2 linked regions of the Homo sapiens genome follow. The protein of the gene in region 2 interacts with the protein of the main gene of each other region in a biochemical or structural test. Each region holds a gene or a part of one and is shown on either strand. Other genes may lie near its edges.

The links. Proteins that work in one complex are often made in the same cells at the same time.
Region 1: the proteins of SYK (region 2) and ERBB2 form a complex in vitro, tested with the Homo sapiens proteins (2 studies listed by BioGRID and IntAct, with this or other methods).

Annotation. Positions count from the first base shown.
Region 1 is NC_000017.11:39,717,064-39,721,513, forward strand, and holds part of ERBB2 (receptor tyrosine-protein kinase erbB-2 isoform a precursor), read left to right. Parts: intron 1-3; coding exon of another isoform or gene 4-105; intron 106-256; coding exon 257-417; coding exon of another isoform or gene 418-421; exon of another isoform or gene 422-594; intron 595-2,723; coding exon 2,724-2,771; intron 2,772-4,450. UniProt on the Homo sapiens protein: Protein tyrosine kinase that is part of several cell surface receptor complexes, but that apparently needs a coreceptor for ligand binding. Essential component of a neuregulin-receptor complex, although neuregulins do not interact with it alone.
Region 2 is NC_000009.12:90,842,550-90,847,949, reverse strand, and holds part of SYK (tyrosine-protein kinase SYK), read right to left. Parts: intron 4,093-5,400; 5' UTR 4,052-4,092; coding exon 3,635-4,051; intron 2,517-3,634; coding exon 2,356-2,516; intron 1-2,355. UniProt on the Homo sapiens protein: Non-receptor tyrosine kinase which mediates signal transduction downstream of a variety of transmembrane receptors including classical immunoreceptors like the B-cell receptor (BCR).

The sequences.
Region 1 (4,450 bases), on a different chromosome or scaffold from region 2:
TAGGTAATGCGTTTTCCTCTCTGGGTGCCTCCCATTTTCTGGCTCAAGTCCCTGCCCAGGATCAAGCTTGGAGGAGGGCCCCGAGGGAGGGGCCACAGAGACTGGGTGAAGAGCAAGGGTGTTTGTCCCAGGAGCATGGCGAAAATTGCTGCTGGGTGGCCTTGGGAAGCACAAAGGGGACCCAACTAAGGGCCTGATCCTACTGCCCTGGGGGTGTCAGTGCCAGCCCCCCACAAATCTTTTCTGCCCCCCCCAGGAGGCTGACCAGTGTGTGGCCTGTGCCCACTATAAGGACCCTCCCTTCTGCGTGGCCCGCTGCCCCAGCGGTGTGAAACCTGACCTCTCCTACATGCCCATCTGGAAGTTTCCAGATGAGGAGGGCGCATGCCAGCCTTGCCCCATCAACTGCACCCACTCGTGAGTCCAACGGTCTTTTCTGCAGAAAGGAGGACTTTCCTTTCAGGGGTCTTTCTGGGGCTCTTACTATAAAAGGGGACCAACTCTCCCTTTGTCATATCTTGTTTCTGATGACAAAAATAACACATTGTTAAAATTGTAAAATTAAAACATGAAATATAAATTAATGCCCTAGCAGTTCTATCCCCACTGTTAATAATTTGAAATATTTTTCCTCTAGTTATTTTTGTCTGTGCACATTCTAATATGTATATATAAGTTAACATATATTAATATTATTCTCCAGTTATTTTTATCTGTGCACATTTTAACACACACACACACACACACACACACACACATATGTATTTTTAGACGGAGTTTCACTCTGTCGCCCAGGCTGGAGTGCAGTAGTACAATCTTGGCTCACTGCAGCCTCCACCTCCTGGGTTTAAGCAATTCTCCTGCTTCCGCCTCCTGAGTAGCTGGGATTACGGGAACGTGCTACCTTGCCTGGCTAATTTTTGTATTTTTAGTACATAGGATTTCACCATGTTGGCCAGGCTGGTCTCGAACCCCTGACCTCAGGTGATCTGCCAGCCTCGGTCCCCCAAAGTGTTGGGATTACAGCGGTGAGCCACCATGCCCAGTCATATATTTCTTTTTAACAAATAGAATCATAGATCATACATATTGTTTGCAAATTGCTTTTTCTCACTTTCCAGAACCTTGAAATGTTTTTCCATGTTCTAACATGGTGATCTACCTTATTCTTTTAATTTTTCTTATTTAGTTGTCTTTACACATGAAACACATGAATACATCCTTGTGATAAACATTTTCAGTAACATAAAAGTATAAATGTTACAAAGCCAACGTGCCCTTTCACTCAACTCCCTGTCCACCCAGTCTCTCCTGTCTGCTGGGAGAACCACCGCATTGACTTGTGTGTTCACCCTTCCAGGCTCTTTTCTGCACACTTATATAGACATACTACATTTATATTAGGTCGAGTCAAATAAGATTGCTGTTTGTGTAAACCAAAAAGTGTCAAGAGCCTGGGCGCAGTGACTCACACCTGTAATCCCAGCACTTTGGGAGGCTGAGGCAGGCAGATCACTTGAGATCAGGAGTTCGAGACCAATCTGGCCAACATAGCGAGACCCCGTCTCTACTAAAAATACAAAAACTAGCCAGGTGTGGTGATGCTGTTCTGCACTTTGCTTTCCCCCCGACTTGAGGTATCCTTTCTTGTGAGTACAGACGGATCTACCACCTTTATTTTTTTTTTAATTACTCAACCTGTAACATGGATGTAATTTCACTTTGTTTTTGAGGGATATTGAGCTTGTTTCCCTGTTTTTGCAGTTTATTGCAATTGAGCTCCACACACAAGTGAGCCCTCTTTTGTATGCCCCCTAGTGGGAATACAGTGCTGGCAATGTTTATCACAAGGATATATTCATGCATTTCAATTTAAAGACAACTAAATGAGAAAAATTAAAAGAATATGGATCCAGGCTGGGCATGGTGGCTCACGCCTGTAATCCCAGCACTTTGGGAGGCCGAGGCAGGCAGATCACCTGAGGTCAGGAGTTCAAGACCAGCCTGGCCAACATGGCAAAACCCCGTCTCTACTAAAAATACAAAAATTAGCCAGGCGTGGTGGTGGGCGCCTGTAATCCCAGCTATTTGAGAGGTTGAGACAGGAGAATTGCTTGAACCTGGGCAGCGGAGGTTGCAGTGAGACGAGATTGCACCAGTGCACTCCAACCTGGGCAACACAGTGCAACTCCTTCTCAAGAAAAAAAAGAAAAAAAAAAAGAATATGGGTCCAGATCCATATGGATCCTAGATCCAGATCACGGTGTTAGAACATGGAAAAACATTGCAAGATTCTGCTAAGTGAAAAAAGCATTTGCAAACAGTATGTACAGTCTATATTCAGAGGAGGAACTGCTGGGTCATAGATGATATTTCATAGGTATTGCCAAACCGTTCTCTGGAGAAGTGGTATGGGTTTACCCTGGGATTCTTCTATGGAGGGAATAGTTGAGCTCCCGGGCTTGCTCTTCTGGGTGCCCCTCCCCGCTTCCTATCCACCACAAGGAGCTGCAGGGGAGCGGGGCATGCCGGTTCCTTGGCTGGAGAAGGAGTCTCCTTGTGAGGTGGTAGAAGGAGCACTGACGGCCTTGAGCCCAGTTTCTGCCTTTGTCAAATGGGGATAATGACCCAGCCACACCCCTCCCAGGGTTGTTGTGAGGCTGGAAAGGTGGTTCCCAAGAGGGTGGTTCCCAGAATTGTTGATGAGACTGTTTCTCCTGCAGCTGTGTGGACCTGGATGACAAGGGCTGCCCCGCCGAGCAGAGAGCCAGGTTGGCCTGGACCCCAGGATGTACCCTTCATTGCCCTTCACTCCCCCACTGGATGCTGGGTGGTCACTGCTGTAGGGAGGGGACCCCCTGACATATGTCCCTTCCCACCCACTCTTCCACTGTGGAACCTCCTGTCATTTTCCACTTCACCAAGTGACAGAGGACCTGCTCAGATGCTGAGGGGAGGGGACTGCAAGGAAAGATGGCTAGGAAACCCAGTCCCTCCACACCCTAGAGTAACTTGATGCCTTGTGAGGGACACAGGCAAAGTTCAATTCCTTGGAAGTCAAGGGAGACTGAGAAGAGTACAGCTGCAGCACTGAGGGAGTGATGAATTCTTAACTGGGGATGGTGGGAGGCTTCGAGTGGGAGGTGGCATTTGAGCTAGGCTTTGAGAGAGGAGCAGGTATTGCACTTGCATTTAGGTAGAAAGCATTGGGGTGCAAGGTGACACTGGAGGGGGAGGCATCAGGAAATCCAGGATGTCTTCAAAGTTCTGGTGTCGGGGGCTGTTGAGTAAGCACAGGAATAAGGGGGTCAAGTTAGAGTCAGGGTGGGGTCTGACCTGGATGCCATAGGACCTGATCCCCAAGCCACAGGGTGGGACTTGACTGGGCAGTGGGGACCTTTGGAAAGGACTTTGGGGAGAAAAACAGACTGGAGTCTGTCTTAGGCGATCATCGGTCCGTGAAATGAGCATGTGTTACAGGCTTGGTATGTACCAGACCCTGTGCTAAGCAAGGGGGTATGGAGAGGAGAGGGTGACAAGAATATTGGATCAACACCCGGGAGCTCCATCTATCCCAGGATGCACTATCTTTTTTTTATTTTTTTGAGACGGAGTCTCACTCTGCCTGCAGGCTGGAGTGCAGTGGCTCCATCTCGGTTCACTGCAACCTCTGCCTCCTGGGTTCAAGCGCTTCTTGTGCCTCAGCCTCCCAAGTAGCTGGGATTACAGGCACATGCCACCACACCCAGCTAATTTTTGTATTTTTAGTAGAGACGGGGTTTCACCATGTTGGCCAGGATGGTCTCGATCTCTTGACCTCAAGATCCGCCCACCTTGGCCTCCCAAAGTGCTGGGATTACAGACATGAGCCACCGTGCCCAGCCAGATACGCTATCTTTTTATTGAGTGATTGAGACAGGGTCTTGCTCTCTTGTCCAGTCTTGAATGTGGTGGTGTAATCACAGGCTCACTGCAGCCTTGACCTCCTGGGCTCAAGTTACCCTTCTGCAGTAGCTGGGACTATAGGAGCGTGCCACCACGCCTGGGTAATTTAAAAAATTTTTTTTGTATAGACAGGGTCTCACTATGTTGCCCGAGCTGGTCTCAAACTCGTGGGCTCAAGTGATCCTCCAGTTTTGGCCTCCCAAAATGTTGGGATCACAGGAGTGAGCCACCACTCCTGGCGATGAGCCAAGTCTTTTTTTTTTTTTTTTTTTTTTGATATGGAGTCTTGCTCTGTTGCCCAGGCTGGAGTGCAATGACACGATCTTGGCTCACTGCAACCTCTGCCTCCCAGGTTCAAGCAGTTCAAGCAATCCTCCTGTCTCAGCCCCCCAGTAGCTGGGATTACAGGCATGCGCTACCACGTCCGGCTAATTTTTGTATTTTTAGTAGAGATGAGGTTTTGCCATGTTGGCCAGGCTGGTCTTGAACTGCTGACCTCAGGTGA
Region 2 (5,400 bases):
CAAACCCCTCCAAGGTGTTTCCTCACACTTTCTCTGTTAAAAACACCATAAGATACCCTGACAAGGAGACTTTCCTGGTGCTCATGATGGAGAAAGAGCACTGAAGAGAGAAGAAAAGCTACATCAGTGATGACCACATGTGCTGTGCGGTGTACGTGGTGTGTATTTTCATTGAATCCTCAAGACAGTCACAGACCCAGAGGAGCAGAGCCTGGGGAAAGTTTCCCTTAGTCTAAGGTTCTACAACCATCATGGGAACATGGGTTCTGAAGCTGGGTCTTGCTGCCCAGGCTTAGCTCTGCTCTTCCCTCTCACTAATACCCTGCCTGATGCCAGGCCTGGGCATGGGGTGCTATGCACCATCAGTCCACAGGTGAGCCCTGCAGGTGTGGAGGGAGCACGGGAAGGTGTGGGACTGAGCTGTGGACAACACAAGGGAGAAAGCCTTGGAAGCTATTATCTGGGAGGTTGGCAATTATGGGGTGATAACTGGACAACTGCAATATAAAGTGGAATAAGAACCCAGGAGAATAAGAACCCAGGAATAAGAACCCAGGAGAAGAAGACAACTAAGGAGAGGGTGCTCGATGAAAACACAGAAGCCCAGGCCCCTCTCTCACAGGCCCATGCCTGGTTAGCTCTGACACCAGCTGAATAGGAAGCACGGCAAGTTTGAGACTCTCTTGCATAAACCATAAGCCTCAGTGTCAGGGACATGTGCTGTGAGGACACATGAGATGTCAGTCTGTACAGGGCAGATAGGGAACAAGGCATGTTCATCAAACAAGAGCTGCACCTCCCAGCCTTCTGCATGGGGTTTATATACATCTCCCAGAAAGGAAGGAGAGAGCAAAAGTCATGGCCATGAAGGATGCAACTGCTGTTTTCGGGAATAGACAACTCCGAAAAAAGAAACAGCTTCGTGGCCAAAGAGGCTATGAGCAGGCTTCTTAACCAGCAGAAGTTGGCCAGCCTCATCGTGTGGATTATGCTATTTTGGGTTGACTTCACATGCCAAGATGCTATGTGCATGGTCCCATGACATTCATGTTGGAAATTATTGCTGAGATGGTAAGAAGCCAAACCTCAGCAAAAATAGCCATAGGTGCCTCCACTGAGGGGCAATGTCTTCCCTCCCCACAGCATTCTGCTGCTGGCTGGGGCTGCATCCCACTAAAGACCATCACTCTAGGCACTGCCGCGTGGCAACCTGGGCCACTCTTCCTTCTTCCTTTTTTTTTTTTTTTTTTAAGAGTATTGTGGTCAATTTTTCTTTTCTTTTTTTCTTTTTTTGAGACAGGGCCTCACTATGTTGCCCAGGCTGGTCTCAAACTAGCCTCAAACGATAGTGAGATCATAGTGAGGATGAAGCGATCCTCCTGCCAGGAGTAGCTGGGACTACAGGTGCGTGCCACTGCACTCAGCTAAGATCATTTTTAAAATACAAGGTATGACAGTGAAGTCTGAGGAAATTCCTTTGAATAGATGGACAGGCAGAGAAAACGCTTCTAAATCTAGGAAAAGTTTACGAAGTCGGCTGGGGATTCACCAATTGCCAAACCATGAGGCTGCATCGCTGTTTCTGGTTATGTTTCCAAGGTAAGCATCTCTGTAGGGACACTGAGAGGTGACCAGGGGATCATTTCCCCCAGGGACAACTGCCCCACTGAGCCACCTTGACCAGACCCCCTCGAGGGAACAAGGTTGACACCTCCCAAAGACAGTTCTTTACCTTCTCTGGACAACTGACTGACCACGTTGGCCTGTATCTCAGAACCTTCTACAATTTAGATTTACACTGAACCACTGAGGATAGCAAACAGAACCCAGGATTCAGACAGACCCTCTAATGACTGTGGGCCTAAGGCTGAAGTCTTCAAACCTGCACTCACCACTCATGGATGCTACTCCCAGGAACTTTTCCTTAACATCTTTCCTGTTGGCATCTTGTTTCATGTAAAATAGAAGTAAAGTCTGAGATCAAGGGGGTAGTTTGAGTAAAAAAACTGCAGTATTTTAATTTTAGTTGGATAACCACAGAATGTGCTATGCAACCTATAATTTGCCATTAAAAGGAGAATATGGGGCTGAATCACATTTTCTTTAAATATTACATCCCTCGGTGCCCAAAAAGAGTGTTCATTTTAGAGTTAGACTGGGCAAAATAAACACTGGGTCACAAGTGATAGCTTTGGTTAGAAATGTCTTTAGAACAGGCCAGCATGCATGTTGTCAAATGGCAATGCATGGCCTCTTCCCAGGGTCATGTGGGGCCAGTCACAAGGAAGCTGAATTATTCCCAATTGTCCACACAGGCCTGGTGGCAGGAGGTGAGGGGGAAGGCACGATACTCACAGGAACTTTCCATTTGTCTTTGATCCTATCAGGACAATTTGCTCAGATTCTTCCCGAGAGATTTTTCCATGGAACCAAGGCATTTTTTCATGGGCTGTGGTAGCGATCAGCTTCTCCAGCTGAGGCTTCTGACTGATGATGGCCTGCTCCAGAGCCTGACCCTGCCACATGGAGAGCAAAGCAGAGTAAACCATACCGAGGAAAAATGAAAATGATGCAGAAGGCATTTCCAATCTATCTCGAGTCCTGGCATGGTAAAACAGGATCAAAACTTATTCACTCATTCATTCAGTAAATAAAACCAGAAAGACCTTTACACATTACTTAAGTACTTTCAAGTGTATAAATAAAAATAACATGGCCGGGCACGGTGGCTCACGCTTATAATCCCAGTATTTTGGGAGGCCAAGGAGGATGGTTCACTTGAGGTCAGGAGTTCGAGACCAGCCTGGCCAGCATGGTGAAACCCCATCTCTACTAAAAATACAAAAATTAGCCAGGTGTGGTGGCACATGCCTGTAATCCCAGCTACTTGGGAGGCTGAGGCAGTAGAATCGCTTGAACCTTGGAGCCAGAGGTTGCATTGAGCTGAGATCATGCCACTGCACTCCAGCCTGGGTGACAGAGCAAGACTCTGTCTCAAAAAAATAAAAAATAAAAAAATAAACACACATATCCTTTGCTGTGGCAATCCCAACCCTTTCAAAGTTTATCCTGCAGACGTTGCATACAAGTGTAGTATACGATAGGTCTAGAGCAATGTTGTTAGCAGCGTTTATTCATAAACAGCAAATGTGTCCATCAATAGGTACTAGTTAAATAAATTGTGGTGCATAGCAGGTGATACCAGATAGCCAAAGAACGGGTGATGCAACTATATGAGTGTTGACACAGAAAGTTCTGCAAGAGATATTAGGAAGCCATAAAATCAAGTGCCTATCAGTGTGTATGGTAGGACCTTGTCAGATAAACAGAAACCAATCAACACCTATCAATGCCTCTCTGAAAAGGCCCTCCTTGCACTGGGTAACAGTGGTTCCCTGCTGTGGAGAAACCCACACTGCTGGCACAAAGGGACCCACCCTCTCAGCTGTGGCTGTGAAAGAGGAAAGGCTCTTATCAGAGAGAGGCATTTTTTGGCCAAAATTGATGCTTAAGGAGATGGTTGTGTTATTTGGGCACACAGGGCACATAGGCACATGTGTTGCATGTAGCCAGGAAGTCTGTGTGGGGTCACAGGGCCCCCTGGGCCCAGGGAGCAGGACCAGCTGTGGCCCACCTGCAGGTTCCATGTCTGCTTCACATATTCCCTGATGAGGTTTTCCTTCAAATCCTCAAAGGGCCCAGTCTTGGGCTGCACCCCTTGGGGCCGGTTGAAGGGCTTCTTGAGGAGGCAGACCAGGCCATCAGACTCCTGGGAGTGGTAGTGGCAGAGGTCGGCGGGGCTGGCATGGGTCCTGCCACCGGCGATGGCGTAGGTGCCATTCAGCTCCCGCTCGATGGTGTAGTGGTGTGCCTTCCTCCCGTGGGCCACGGACAGGGCGAAGCCACCCAGGTAGTTGCGGCTCTGGCGCAGCAAATAAAGCCCATCACTCATGCCCCCCTGGACCAGGTAATCTTCTGCCTCCTCCCGGGTGATGTTGCCGAAAAAGAAGGGCAGGTGGTTGGCGCTGTCAGCCATGCCGCTGCTGGCCATGCTTCAGGGGCCGGAGGGCACACACCTGCGCAGGTGTCCACCTGGGCAAGACAGAGACAGAGAACTTTGGTGAGGACCCCACGTGGCAGGGAACGTTTGCTAAAACCACTCAAACCCTTTCAAAGTGGAGACAAACCCTCCCATCTCTGAACAAAGGCACTTCCCTCTTTGGCCCTCCCAACACACAGTTGTCTTTCTGTTCACATCATCATTACAGTTTTCAGCATGCCTTCTAACTAAGCTAAAATCAGAGCATTTGATGGAAGTGACCAAATTAAATAATTCTTTTTTGGGGGGAGTGGGGAAAGACAAAGAATTCTAAAAATAAACATACCGCAAAGAGAAGCAAACAGAAGGGCTATTGCAAAACAGGACTCTTGGGCTGACCCTCAGGGTCCCAGCAGCATACAGGAGGCAGAATCTACATGAGAACAAACCAACTGCTCCTCCTGAGTCCAGACAATGTTAGAGAAGCCTTGCTCCTCATCACAGTGATATTACCAAGGAGGACGCTACCACCACCTCACCCACCTGAGCTGCGAGACGCTGCCTCGAGCAGTCAGTCACACGCTGGTGCTGAGCCCCAGAGGTGAAGTGAGGCCACGTTGAGGGCCCACACGGAACTGTGACTTGTGGTCACCATAAGGCCTTCCCACCTCCAGCCCGGGGCTATGATAGCAACAAGCCACTGCCTGAGACATGAAGAGTGACACCCTCCCTGGCTCCCGAGGCCTGGGGCCCATAGGCTGTCTTCTCCCCGCTTCTCCAGACCACTTCCTGGGCAACGCCACTTCCCATCTGCAGGGCCCGTGCTAAAGAGATAGTGCCGGTTCCCAGCCCACGAGGACATCTGACACAGGAGAGACACTGCTTGCAGTAAATAAATACATTTCAGAAGCAAAAAGAAAGGCGGCCAATGCATATTTAACATGGAGAGTATTCCCTCTCAATCATGGTTGTAAACTAGAAGGATACATATTGCCAGCCCCAAAAGTATCCAAGGAGGCACATTTTAACCAAAAGGGGCTGGTCGTGAATGGAAAATTATCTACATGACTCCATCCATTTATCCAGGGAGCAAAGCGCATGTCCCTCATGGTACACACACACACACACACACACACACACACACACACACACTCTCTCCATACCACATGCACACTACATGCATGCCACACACACTATGAACACATGCCACACCTGCACTACACACACACCATGTACTACATGCACACTATGCACATCACACACACCAAACACACAAACTACATACATACCACACACACGAAACACACTACACACATCACATGCTACACTACATACATGCTACACACACAAAACAGACATGA